Homo sapiens: one gene and its partner. The protein of the gene in region 1 interacts with the protein of each later gene in a pairwise test. Each region holds a gene or a part of one and is shown on either strand. Other genes may lie near its edges.

Region 1 (7,022 bases):
TTCTTAGATACGGGTCCAAATTAGTACACAAAGCACTTCCTCATTCCTCTCTTACGGCTGCATAGCAGTCCACTGAATGGGTGAGCTATGATCTATTTAACCTATTCTTTATTGATGGACATTTGGTTTTGTATATACATTTGTAATTCTGTATAGATTACAAATCACCATCCAAAGAAATTGTACTGGTTTATTCTCCTACAATGTGTGAGAGTTGGGTAATTACTTAATCTCAATATGTGAGAGTTTAGGCAGTTACCTAATCTCTCTGAGTCTCAGTTTCTCTATCTGCAAAATAAACAAAACAGTGTTGACAGTATCTATTTCTCGGAATTATTGTGGAGATTACTGAGATGATGCCTGTAAAGTATTTGGCATGTAGGAGTTGGTGCTCTCCAAATAAGGATATGATTTTATTTGTATTTGTGAGCTACTGTCCCAGCCAGGTAAATGGATATGATGAGACCTCCTTGCCAGACCGGGTTTCTCTGATTAGAACGAGGAGCAGATGTTGCAGGAAATTAGCAACTGATATCAGAAGAGCCGTGGGCATTCTCTTGCCAGAGGTGCCCTGTCTCCAGGGCGCCTCAGTCCCCCCCCATATGTCTTCTGCTCCCAGGTCCATCCAAGCTGAATGATCGCGCTGACTCAAGAAGAAGCCTTTGGGACCAAGGAAACTTTCCCCTGATCATCAAGAATCTTAAGATAGAAGACTCAGATACTTACATCTGTGAAGTGGAGGACCAGAAGGAGGAGGTGCAATTGCTAGTGTTCGGATGTGAGTGGGGCAGGTGGGGATGAGGATACCTCCTGCCTGGTTCCCTTCCCCACTACTCCCACCCCTGCACCAAATCCAGCCTGAGCTGGTGATACCGCAGCAGCCCCAAGAGGACCAGGCTGTCAAACTGGCCTCCAAATGTCTTAAAACCCTTCTTGATCAGGTGAGGGATGCTGGTGGGCGGAGGAGGGAAGAGGCCTTGGGAAAAGGAAAGAAAAGGGAAGGAGGCAAGGGAAGGAGGGAGAGAGACTGGGGAAGAGAGGATGAGGGGAGAGGAGGAAAGAAGAGAGAGAGGAGGGGAGAGGGAAACCCTATCTTGGCTGGGGGTGCGCAGCTGGGTGCTGGGAGGAAGGAGATGTTGGGACGGCGATAATGGAGAGATGTTGTTGGTTTCCTGTTGTCTGCCCTTCTCCTTGGGGATGGTATGTGTGTGACACAGCTGGCCTTTCCCTCCACAGTGACTGCCAACTCTGACACCCACCTGCTTCAGGGGCAGAGCCTGACCCTGACCTTGGAGAGCCCCCCTGGTAGTAGCCCCTCAGTGCAATGTAGGAGTCCAAGGGGTAAAAACATACAGGGGGGGAAGACCCTCTCCGTGTCTCAGCTGGAGCTCCAGGATAGTGGCACCTGGACATGCACTGTCTTGCAGAACCAGAAGAAGGTGGAGTTCAAAATAGACATCGTGGTGCTAGGTAAGGGAAGCCCCTCTTCGCGCAGTCTCCTCCCTGCCCCAGGGGCTGACAGCCCCTCCCTCTGCTCTGACTGCCCTGTTTCTGGTTCTGGTGCTGGGAGGTCAGGAGTGGAGAAGACTAGGTCCCCTAGAGCTGAGGCCTGTCTTGAAGGACTCACTGGGGCCCTCATCCTCAGGGGGCTGATTGGCAGCCACCCCTCAGTGTGGTGGACATGGAGAAAGGAAAGGCTGGGGAAGGTAAGGATGCTAGAGGCCCGAGTCTCCTTTGGAGGCCCCAAAGGAGGAATGTCAGGGAGCTTACTTTCTTTGTTGCCTCAGCTCCACACCCCTACCAAGTTGGCAAATCCACTTACTCAGGGACACTAACACCAGTAAGCCAACCCTGATGATGTTCTATGTTGTACCTCTGGACCTCTAAGCCAGGCCACTGTGGGGAGACCAAGGTCCTACCCCAGATCCTGTCCCCTGGGTGCTTATGTGACTTAAGGTAGACATAAGGTAGTGTGCCAGTTTAGTGCATGTACGCTGATTGAAATCCTGGTTCTGCCACAACCATGTGACCTTGGGTGAGTTACTAAACCTCTCTGCACCTTGGTTTCAGCCTCTGTGAAATGGGGATGATGTTAACTGCCATAGTGACTACCTCGTATTAAGTTGAGGACTGATATACGTAAGGCACTGAAAATGGTGCCTGGCACAGAGTAAGCCCTAGTTAAGTGTTCGCTGTTATTTTGTGAAGGGTGATGAATACGCCTCTAAGGAGTGGAGGCCAAATGGCTTCTGTGGTCCAGGAATCCTAAGGACAGCAAGGATCCCCTGTGGCTGGGCTGCTCTGTGATGGCTTCCGGGAGGAGGGAGGTGGCCTGCTGTAGGAAAATGCTGGGTGGAAGAAGGGAGAGAAGGCTGGAGAGGTAGGAAGGAACTGAAGTATCTGAAGTGACAAGGTGGGTGTCTGGACTCGTCGGGTCCCCTTCCATCTCCCTGCTGCCTCCACATGCCAACCCCACTCGTGCACCCTCATCTTCCTATCTCCTCACCCAGGGTCTCTCCCTTCCCACCTCCAGCTTTCCAGAAGGCCTCCAGCATAGTCTATAAGAAAGAGGGGGAACAGGTGGAGTTCTCCTTCCCACTCGCCTTTACAGTTGAAAAGCTGACGGGCAGTGGCGAGCTGTGGTGGCAGGCGGAGAGGGCTTCCTCCTCCAAGTCTTGGATCACCTTTGACCTGAAGAACAAGGAAGTGTCTGTAAAACGGGTTACCCAGGACCCTAAGCTCCAGATGGGCAAGAAGCTCCCGCTCCACCTCACCCTGCCCCAGGCCTTGCCTCAGTATGCTGGCTCTGGAAACCTCACCCTGGCCCTTGAAGCGAAAACAGGAAAGTTGCATCAGGAAGTGAACCTGGTGGTGATGAGAGGTGAGGGGCCAGGCCAGGGAGGGGTGGGCAGGGGAAGGAGTTGGAGGGGCCTGGCCCAGGGCTCCCTCTGAGGCAAGCCAGGCCCCAAGAGGGGATGCCTAGGCCCTGGTCACCTGGATGAAGTGAGGGAGGGCCCTCTGGGTTTGGGGCTGGTTTTGAACTGAGACATCCATGAGCCAGCCTGGGGCTGGCTTCACTGAAGATCCCCAAAGCACTTGGGCTAAGAACCAGGGTTCCAGTTCTTCCTATAACCAACCCTCTGTGACCCTGGCTAAGCCCCCTCCCACTGCAGGCCTGCTTCCTGACCTGTCTAATAAGGATAATGAAATCTGCTCTCTGTGTGATAGTAATGATGATAATGTCAAGCTCCAAATTGAGTTTCTGGCTTCCTTATCTCCTTATCATCATAACGACTCTGCAAATAGTAATGGCTAACACTTGATGCTCAGCACGTGTCGGGCCCCATCCAAACACTTTACATGTATGCCTGCCTTTAGTACTATCTGGGTGCAGGTTGTTAAGTCACTTGCCCAGAGACACACAGCTGCTAAGCAGTGGAGCTGGGATTCAAATCCAATACCACTGGACCCCAAACGCTGTTTTTCCTCGTAGGACTGCATGAAAACCTGCTCTAAAAGGCTAAAAGAAGGTCACCCATATAGAGTATCATTTTAATTGTTCTACTGAATCTCAGGCCTTTGATCTCAGCCTCTCGTTCCTCTGCAGCCACTCAGCTCCAGAAAAATTTGACCTGTGAGGTGTGGGGACCCACCTCCCCTAAGCTGATGCTGAGTTTGAAACTGGAGAACAAGGAGGCAAAGGTCTCGAAGCGGGAGAAGGCGGTGTGGGTGCTGAACCCTGAGGCGGGGATGTGGCAGTGTCTGCTGAGTGACTCGGGACAGGTCCTGCTGGAATCCAACATCAAGGGTAAGGACCCAGGTTCCAAGGCCTCTGCCTCCTGGGCTGCGGGACCTTCCTGTGGTTGGCAGAGACCACCCAGAGTCCCGGCCTCCCAATGCCTGAGTTGGGGGGTTATGGGTATGGTGTCCTCTGTGGTCCCAGGGTGCTTTGGAGGCCCCAAAAGGAGGCATAGAAGTGATGAAGTGAGGTGGGTTGTGGTCCTGGGCTCTAGGCTGCCAGTTGTAATTCTACAAGTTCCCACTCCCTCAGGTCTACAGCCTAGGGATGGGGTCCACCTGACCGAGAGCCCCCCTCCCTGGCTCCTGGCTTTTCTCCAAATCCAGACGCACTTACACACACACTCACACACATACACTCTCACACACATGCACACACTCCCATACACTCTCACACACGCACACACATCACTCACACACTCGCACACACTCATACACACACTACACACACATCCACACTCACACCCACACTCTCACCCCATGTACTCACACCCATGCACTCACACACTGTCACACACTCATACACACACATGTACTCACACATGCATGCACACACACACTTACACATTCACGCACATACTCTCACCCACACACTGTCGTACACGTACACTCACACACTTATACACTCACATCCGCACACGCATTATTCACACATGTGCACACACGCGCGCGCACATGCATGCAGTCACGCACACACATTCATACACGCACACAGGCACACATTCACACACATGCACACACGCACACACATTCACACATGGACTCACACGCGCACACGCGCGCACACACACACATTCACACCATTCACACACGCACACACATGCACACACTCACACATGCACACACACATGCACTCACACACACAGCCCAGGAGCCAGACCACAGCTTCTCTCTCTCCAGAGTGCCCTGGATATGGATATGCCCAAACATAAAACCGATTCCCCAGCACTGGCGGCCTTTGAGAGCCCCCAGGCACCCCTCCCCTCTCCCCCAACCCCAGGGTCAAACCAGAGACTGGCCAGGAGGGATTGCAGGGCAGTCCTCAGTCCCCTGGCCCGTGGAGGAGGGCGGTGCATTGAGCACATTTCTCTCCCTTGCAGTTCTGCCCACATGGTCCACCCCGGTGCAGCCAATGGCCCTGATTGTGCTGGGGGGCGTCGCCGGCCTCCTGCTTTTCATTGGGCTAGGCATCTTCTTCTGTGTCAGGTGCCGGCACCGAAGGGTGAGTAACCCCACACCTGGTCCCCACAAGGCCCTCAAACCCCTGAGTCCTCTACCAGGAGATCCTGTATATGGGAACTGATTTTGGCCCAGCTCCCTCTGCCCACTCGTAAGTTCCCTTGCTGCCCTGTCCCAGATCCCACTCAAGGGAGAGACAGGAAGGAGCAGAGAGTTAATTCCAGGATAGATGGCCTGGGCCATGTAACTGCTTCTCCTGTCGCAGCTTCCCCCACTCCCCCCACCAAGGGGCACCTCCCTTCTGGAGGCCTGGGACCCTCGTGACTCCCTTTCTTGTCCCTGGACAGCGCCAAGCAGAGCGGATGTCTCAGATCAAGAGACTCCTCAGTGAGAAGAAGACCTGCCAGTGTCCTCAGTAAGGATCTGGGAGGAGGGGTTGAGAGAGGGGAAAGGGGGAGGGGGAGGGAGTTAGAGAGGAGGGGGAGGAAGGGGAGCAAAGGGGGGCAGGAAGGGAGGATGGAGAGGAGGAAGGAGTTGAGGAGGAAGAGCTGGGAGGGGTGGAGGTGAGGAGATGGGGGCTAAAGGGGTGTGGTGGAGAGGATAGAGGGGTGGGAAAAGATGGCCAGGAGCTAGAAGGAGGCAGAAGTGGGAGGATGGAGCTGAAGGAGCAGCAGGCCAGGAAAGGCCCTGCTGGAAAGCCACTGGAGCTGTGCTGCGCTGGAAAGGCCATTGGAGGTGCTAGAACGCAAAGGGGTTGCAGTGGGGACAGACCTGCTCCCCTTCTTCTTTGTTCCTGCAGCCGGTTTCAGAAGACATGTAGCCCCATTTGAGGCACGAGGCCAGGCAGATCCCACTTGCAGCCTCCCCAGGTGTCTGCCCCGCGTTTCCTGCCTGCGGACCAGATGAATGTAGCAGATCCCCAGCCTCTGGCCTCCTGTTCGCCTCCTCTACAATTTGCCATTGTTTCTCCTGGGTTAGGCCCCGGCTTCACTGGTTGAGTGTTGCTCTCTAGTTTCCAGAGGCTTAATCACACCGTCCTCCACGCCATTTCCTTTTCCTTCAAGCCTAGCCCTTCTCTCATTATTTCTCTCTGACCCTCTCCCCACTGCTCATTTGGATCCCAGGGGAGTGTTCAGGGCCAGCCCTGGCTGGCATGGAGGGTGAGGCTGGGTGTCTGGAAGCATGGAGCATGGGACTGTTCTTTTACAAGACAGGACCCTGGGACCACAGAGGGCAGGAACTTGCACAAAATCACACAGCCAAGCCAGTCAAGGATGGATGCAGATCCAGAGGTTTCTGGCAGCCAGTACCTCCTGCCCCATGCTGCCCGCTTCTCACCCTATGTGGGTGGGACCACAGACTCACATCCTGACCTTGCACAAACAGCCCCTCTGGACACAGCCCCATGTACACGGCCTCAAGGGATGTCTCACATCCTCTGTCTATTTGAGACTTAGAAAAATCCTACAAGGCTGGCAGTGACAGAACTAAGATGATCATCTCCAGTTTATAGACCAGAACCAGAGCTCAGAGAGGCTAGATGATTGATTACCAAGTGCCGGACTAGCAAGTGCTGGAGTCGGGACTAACCCAGGTCCCTTGTCCCAAGTTCCACTGCTGCCTCTTGAATGCAGGGACAAATGCCACACGGCTCTCACCAGTGGCTAGTGGTGGGTACTCAATGTGTACTTTTGGGTTCACAGAAGCACAGCACCCATGGGAAGGGTCCATCTCAGAGAATTTACGAGCAGGGATGAAGGCCTCCCTGTCTAAAATCCCTCCTTCATCCCCCGCTGGTGGCAGAATCTGTTACCAGAGGACAAAGCCTTTGGCTCTTCTAATCAGAGCGCAAGCTGGGAGCACAGGCACTGCAGGAGAGAATGCCCAGTGACCAGTCACTGACCCTGTGCAGAACCTCCTGGAAGCGAGCTTTGCTGGGAGAGGGGGTAGCTAGCCTGAGAGGGAACCCTCTAAGGGACCTCAAAGGTGATTGTGCCAGGCTCTGCGCCTGCCCCACACCCTCCCTTACCCTCCTCCAGACCATT
Region 2 (7,296 bases), on another chromosome or scaffold:
CACAAGCCCACAGATATTTCCTGCTCCCCAGTGGATCGGGTGTAAACTGAGCTTGCTCGCTCGGGAGCCTCTTGCTGGAAAATAGAACAGCATTTGCAGAAGCGTTTGGCAATGTGCTTTTGGAAGAAGACTAAGAGGTAGTTTCTGAACTTCTCCCCGACAAAGGCATAGATGATGGGGTTGATGCAGCAGTGCGTCATCCCAAGAGTCTCTGTCACCTGCATAGCTTGGTCCAACCTGTTAGAGCTACTGCAATTATTCAGGCCAAAGAATTCCTGGAAGGTGTTCAGGAGAAGGACAATGTTGTAGGGAGCCCAGAAGAGAAAATAAACAATCATGATGGTGAAGATAAGCCTCACAGCCCTGTGCCTCTTCTTCTCATTTCGACACCGAAGCAGAGTTTTTAGGATTCCCGAGTAGCAGATGACCATGACAAGCAGCGGCAGGACCAGCCCCAAGATGACTATCTTTAATGTCTGGAAATTCTTCCAGAATTGATACTGACTGTATGGAAAATGAGAGCTGCAGGTGTAATGAAGACCTTCTTTTTGAGATCTGGTAAAGATGATTCCTGGGAGAGACGCAAACACAGCCACCACCCAAGTGATCACACTTGTCACCACCCCAAAGGTGACCGTCCTGGCTTTTAAAGCAAACACAGCATGGACGACAGCCAGGTACCTATCGATTGTCAGGAGGATGATGAAGAAGATTCCAGAGAAGAAGCCTATAAAATAGAGCCCTGTCAAGAGTTGACACATTGTATTTCCAAAGTCCCACTGGGCGGCAGCATAGTGAGCCCAGAAGGGGACAGTAAGAAGGAAAAACAGGTCAGAGATGGCCAGGTTGAGCAGGTAGATGTCAGTCATGCTCTTCAGCCTTTTGCAGTTTATCAGGATGAGGATGACCAGCATGTTGCCCACAAAACCAAAGATGAACACCAGTGAGTAGAGCGGAGGCAGGAGGCGGGCTGCGATTTGCTTCACATTGATTTTTTGGCAGGGCTCCGATGTATAATAATTGATGTCATAGATTGGACTTGACACTTGATAATCCATCTTGTTCCACCCTGTGCATAAATAAAAAGTGATCTTTTATAAAGTCCTAGAATGTATTTAGTTGCCCTCCATGAATGCAAACTGTTTTATACATCAATAGGTTTTTAATTGCCTACATAGATGTCTACATTGAATTAACTCTCTTTTTGGCCAAGCAATGAAGTTTTGTAGTGAAGGGAAGGTTTGCTGCTAGCTTCCCTGTCCACTAGATGGAGAGCTTGGCTCTGTTGGGGGAATTCATGAAAGCACCATCTCACCAAATAAAATCTTGTGCTCTATAGCACCATGGAGTGAATGAAGCTTTGACAACAATTTTAAGAAACTGGGTCAAGCATGGTGCAGCTCAGCCTTTTTGTTGTTGTTGTTGTTGTTGTGAGACAGGGTCTCACTCTGTCGCCCAGGCTGGAGTGCAGTGGCACGATCATGGCTCACTGCAGCCTGGACCATCCCGGGCTCAAGCAATCCTCTCACCTCACCCCTCCAAGTGGCTGGGGACTACAGGCGCCACCACACCAAGCTAATTTTGTTTATTTTTATAGATACAAGATCACACTATGTTGCCCAGGCTGGTCTCGAACTCCTGGGCTCAAGCGATCCTCCTGCCTCAGCCTCCTAGAATGCTGGGATTACAGGCATGAGCCACCATGCCCGGCTGCAACTCAGTCTTAACATTTTTATTGACGCTAGAGTTAGCCCACAAAGAACATGCACTATGAGCAAGCCAGTAATAATTAAGAGGCCTCGAGGGCACATACTGGATGCCAATCACTGTTCTAAGCATCATACCCATTCATTCATTTAATCCTTAGGGCAACCTTATGAGGCAGGAAATATTTTTCACATTTTGCAGACAAGGACCTTGAAGCACAGAGAGGGTGAGTAACTTGCTCAAAGCCACACAGCTAGTAAGCAACCGATTTTGAATGCGGGAAGCCTGCACTCTTAACTACCATGCTACCCTCCCTCTCAGTCCTCGAAAAGAGAATTAAAAGGCAAGACCATCAGATGTTTGGTGACATGATGTAGTCAGAGTGAAATGGCCGGGTGCCCAAGTCCCAGGGAAGGTCATAGATGACAACAGCCAATTGTAAAATCCTCACATTTTCTGTGAAGTTTGTGTTTGTAGTTTCTGAGTTGCCACAATTAAGAGTTGTCATACATACCCAAGAAATAATATAATAAAAAATGTTTCGTCTGCCACCACAGATGAATGTCATGCATTCTGGGTAGTTTAGTCTTATAACCAGCTGTCTTGCCTAGTCTATTTAAGTTCAGCTGCTCTAGCTGAGAATTTTCTCTTATTAAACCCTGTGAGTCTCAAACTCCCTGCACCTTAGACTAGGCAGCTGAGAGAAGCCCCTAGAAAAGCTCATTTTTAATTTTGAACCATAAAGAATTATATACTAACTGTGCCATGAAACTGATATATTAGAGGAAAATTTTATTTGGCGTTTGTAATTTAATATTAATTTTGACCATTTTTAGGCTTCCCTCTTGTCTGGAGGAAAAAGAAAAAAGAGAACCAGACTTAGACACAACTTCTTGTGGGCACATATTCAGAAGGCATCTCACTGGAGAGGGTTTAGTTCTCCTTAGCAGAAGATAAGATTTCAAGATTTCAGCTAAGACTCATCTCTCTGCAAATCTTTCTTTTGAGAGGTAAGGATTGTTAGTTATTAAAATACTATTGCTCCCTTTAAAGTCTTTCACTCACAATCATGTTTTGTATCTTTGATGTTATAACCGTCTGAAACTCATTCCAAACTGTGACCCTTTCCTTATCTTAAAGATTATATTTTAAGATAATTGTATGAGCACTTGGTGTTTGCCAAATGTCTTCTATGGGTTTCCTGTAAAGTCTTTTACTCATCTCAGAAGCTAACTAACAGGCCAAGCAGCTGAGAGGTTACTTACCGGGGAGAGTTTCTTGTAGGGGAACGGATGTCTCAGCTCTTCTGGCCAGATGAGCTGTGCAAATCAATCATATAGACAGTATAAAAGTAGGAAATGCTGTTTCTTTTGAAGGAGGGTGGAGTTAAATCATTAAGTGTATTGAAGGCGAAAAGAATCAGAGAACAGTTCTTCTTTTTAAGTTGAGCTTAAAATAAGCTAGAGAATAGATCTCTGGTCTGAAGGTTTATTTACGGGCTTTTCTCACTGGATTATTTTGTTTTTGTTCTCTGCTCATCCCACTACACAGAATCTGTTAGAAAATATAAAGAATAAAGGATATCAGAGCTAGAAGAACATTTACATTCATCTAGTCAAAAGCCCACATTTTAGTAAAAGAAATTACTATCCAAGAAGCAAATGATTTGTACAAGATCACAGGGCTTTTCAACAGTAAGGCTAAAAGGTTAAGAAAATTCTGATTATCTTAAGAGTTGCTATTAATTAAAGCCAACTTAAACCAACTTTAAATGTAGAGGGGGATCCTGGACTTCACATTAACCCTGTGTCCCCTTTTTCTCCACTCTCCCCGTATCCCCTATCCCACCCCAACCCCCACACAGATGCTCACCACCCAATATTATTGTTCTCTGTAAACGGAAACAACCTGTTGTCTAAAGAGTTTTAACTATGGGCTCACGGGTGAGCTAAACAGGTTTCCCATCTTTTTCTGGACCCAGGATCTTAGTGGGGATTTTCACTCTGTTCACTATTTTGTTGCCCTTCAAACCAGTAAGCATTTATGAGGACTCACACTATGCCAGATACATAGGTGGCAGGATTCTTCACTCCAGATATAATCTATCTGAAGCTATGAGAAATTTTCCACATGACATAAGTATATGGTCAAGTTCAGGTTCTTTATGACTATACTATATACAGTCATATCAAGCTCTCTTGGCGGTTGGTGACATCTGAAAATCTCAAGTATTGTCAGCAGAGCTGAGAAGACAGCAGAGAGCTACTCCCGAGCCACAAGATGCCCTCTGGGCTTCCGTGACCTTGGCTCTAGAATAAAAAGCTTTGGCTTGTGATCTCTAAGAAGGCAAATGAGACCCCAAACAGCAAAATTACGTGCCCCCAATCCTACAGAGGCAGACTAACCCAGGGGCTAAGCCAGTGGCCTCTGTAGTCAGACTGCCAAGCTTGAAACCTGTCTTACCCTCAGCTTTCTCGTCTGGGTATTGGGCTGAATGACAGTAGTCATTTCATGAGTTGTTGGGAGGATTCTATGAGGCATCCACGGCCAGCATCTAGCACATACTATGCACTCAGTAAACATCAAACTCTTAGTTACTCTTTCAGCAGTCCTTTGTCAGAGAGAGTTTATTTGATCAAATCCTAATAAAATTGGTTCACCGGAGTCTCTGTCTATAGCAGATTAGTTTCAGCAAACTAGAAGCTGAAAAGGTAAAGCTAATTGCTGGTGCTTGGAGAATAGAAAGAAATGACTGCTTGGGAAAAGCCAGAACAGTATAGAAATAGCCCAGCGATCAAGACACCCCCACCCCCGCCCCATATAGGGACATATGTCTGTGCTACAACAGAGCTCAGTAACATAATCATAACAAGGACAGCGAATCATCGAGAAAATGTTCTAGTTCATCCCATATGTGCAATTCAAAAGGCATTGATTAAGAACTGCAGTCATGCTGCTGGGTTTAACCTCCAGCTTCATTACTGCTACTTGGCTCTGACCAAATTATTGAAGCTCTGTGCCTTAGTTTTCTTAACTGTAGAGTGGAGGTTTTAAAAAAACCCAAATACAAACTTACTCAATATGCCTGTGGTGGAGAGGGAATGATAACAAGTGTAGAGCCTTTTGGGCACCCACCCTCGGGGGACTGTTTAAGCAGGGAAATATAAAGTGTGCTTTTGAAAGAGTTCAAAAATAGGTAACAAATAAATTAATATAAAATTTTATAGAAAATAGATAGCATAAATACAACTTTGGTTTTTCGAAAGATAGATAGCCTTGTATTCACTGGTAATCCACTTGTGCAGAACCCCCGGAGGCTGCCGGACCAACACTGTATTTCTGTTTGTGGCAATTGCTGGTTCTTACTTTCACCATGCAGAGCTGAGGCTTTGCCATGTTCTGTTTGTCTGTCATTAGGGTATTGGAGGATGTGAAGACATACTCACCCCCAGAGGGCAATGTGGGCTAGCGGAGCAGGCTCGGAGTCACACACGCTGTGCTGCTGACTTGCTGTGTGACCTCGGCAAGATACTTCCACTGCCCAAGCTTCCATTTCCTCATCTGTTAAATGACGTGCTAGACCTGGGGCAGCTTCCACCCTAAATACTACATGATTCTATGGCCAAGTTAGTTTGAAAAATATAGGCTAGATGGGAAACAAGGTGAGGATTCACAGGCTGAAACAAGGAAGCACAGCTTTGCAGTGTGCGTTACTCCACTTTTGTGTTTCTGGTCCAGAGGTGTGTTCTAGTAACCACTCAGGACAGGGGGGTTCAGCCCAAGGATTCACAAGAAAGTGGGGACCCATGGGAAATTCTTCAGCATTTAAATGAAATGTTGTTCTGGATACAATAATGACAACAAGCTAGCAGCTTATCATGCTGTGACTTAGTTGCTTGGTGTCTGCTACTCTTTCTACTTTGTCCCTCTCAGTTTGCATGGCTCTTGTTCTCTTTTTATTATTAAGTACATTCGGACACCCCATAGGAAATGAACTTTTGATCACTTTGTCACTCTAGACTCCATGCCCATATTGGAGGGTGTTTCGTGCCATCCCTCCTTTTTGGGGCCTTTTTGTCTTTAAACAGCTGCCCCATGTCTAGTCACTGCACCTATGTTCCAAGCATTGCTTTGCTGTCTCCTTGCTCACACCATTTCTGGACCATATTTTCAGAGCATCGTCAACAGGATGGGGAGAATGTTAATTATTCACTTTGGGTGCAAGGGCCAACTACATGAGCACAGTGAGCAGAAACCCTGCCATACAGCAGCTGTTGTGAAAATCCCTGGGGCCTGAGTTGACTCCTGGTCAATATCAGTCAACAGTGAGACGGGCTGTAAAAAGAGCAAATGAATCTTTTATTTTTAAAAACAAATGTCTAGGCCAAGTGCGGTGGCTCATGCCTATAATCCCAGCACTTTGGGAAGCCAAGGCGAGTGGATAACTTGAGGTCAGGAGTTTGAGACCAACCTGGCCAGCATGGTGAAACCCCATCTCTACTAAAAATACACAAAATTAGCTGGATGTGGTGGTGCGCCCCTATAGTCCCAGCTACTCAGGAGGCTGAAGTGGGAGAATCTCTTGAACCCAGGAGATGGAGGTTGCAGTGAACCAAGATTGGGCCATTGCACTCCAACCTGGGTGACAGCAAGCTGTGTCTCAAAACCAAACCAAACAAACAAAATGTCTAATTATAAAACCAACACATGCTCATTGTATAAAATTGGGAAAAACAGAAAAAAGGAAAAACTTAGGTACATTCTCACAGTATCAAAACAATGTCTTTTAAAACATGATGTTTCAATCCTGACTTTTCCCATGCACTTTTCGATTAATTGTTCTCATGCATATACCATTCTGTAGGCGGCTTCTTTTTTTTTTTTTTTTAGCTAAAGATTATAGTGTAGACATTTTCCTATATTATTAAAAAATTCTTTATAAGTGTAGTTCTTTATTATTTTTATTGAGGAAGAACACACTTAGTGGTACAGCTTGGTGAGTTTTGATATGCACACATGCATGTAACTACCACTCCGGATCAAGATGATAAGGAACATCCCTATCACTTCAGAAGGTGCCTTTTGCTCCACCCAGAGGTAAGGGCCACTCTGTCTTCATAGAGATTAAATAAGCCTGTCTTTAACTTCTATAAATGGATTAAAGATACTGTCCTCTTTCCTGTCTGGCTTCATTCATTCAACAAAATAGCCTTAACTATATTTAACAGAGCTCCGTCATTGACAGTCGGGCTCTTCCCGTTGTTCAGTAGACAGTCGGGCTCTTCTCGGTTGTTCAGTCATGTGAGCAGTGTCACACTGATTGTCACCATCAGTGCTCTGACATCCCTGTCAAGAAGTACACTCTTCCTGTCCCTAGAGCCACCTTTAGCAGGAGAGCCAGGGAGTCCCCCTGATCCTCACAGAAATAGGAAGAATCTACCCCCATCCAGTGCCACGCTTTGTTACCCATGTGCCTCAACAATGACACTTGAGTCTTATGACACCCACCAGGTGACAGCCTCTTTACCTTCTGCCTCAGACACCTATCATCGTGGGTGGGTTGGGAACTCACCATGCTGTTGTCTCCAT

Evidence for each region.
Region 2: the proteins of CD4 (region 1) and CCR5 interact in binary tests that used the Homo sapiens proteins (3 or more experiments, as listed by UniProt).

Annotation. Positions count from the first base shown.
Region 1 is NC_000012.12:6,813,523-6,820,544, forward strand, and holds part of CD4 (T-cell surface glycoprotein CD4 isoform 1 precursor), read left to right. Parts: intron 1-619; coding exon 620-778; exon of another isoform or gene 779-941; intron 942-1,236; coding exon 1,237-1,470; intron 1,471-2,208; exon of another isoform or gene 2,209-2,463; coding exon of another isoform or gene 2,464-2,533; coding exon 2,534-2,881; intron 2,882-3,607; coding exon 3,608-3,808; intron 3,809-4,898; coding exon 4,899-5,020; intron 5,021-5,324; coding exon 5,325-5,392; intron 5,393-5,776; coding exon 5,777-5,807; 3' UTR 5,808-7,022. UniProt on the Homo sapiens protein: Integral membrane glycoprotein that plays an essential role in the immune response and serves multiple functions in responses against both external and internal offenses.
Region 2 is NC_000003.12:46,366,665-46,373,960, reverse strand, and holds the start of CCR5 (C-C chemokine receptor type 5), read right to left. Parts: upstream 3,016-7,296; 5' UTR 2,973-3,015; intron 2,718-2,972; exon of another isoform or gene 2,544-2,717; intron 1,070-2,543; 5' UTR 1,059-1,069; coding exon 1-1,058. UniProt on the Homo sapiens protein: Receptor for a number of inflammatory CC-chemokines including CCL3/MIP-1-alpha, CCL4/MIP-1-beta and RANTES and subsequently transduces a signal by increasing the intracellular calcium ion level.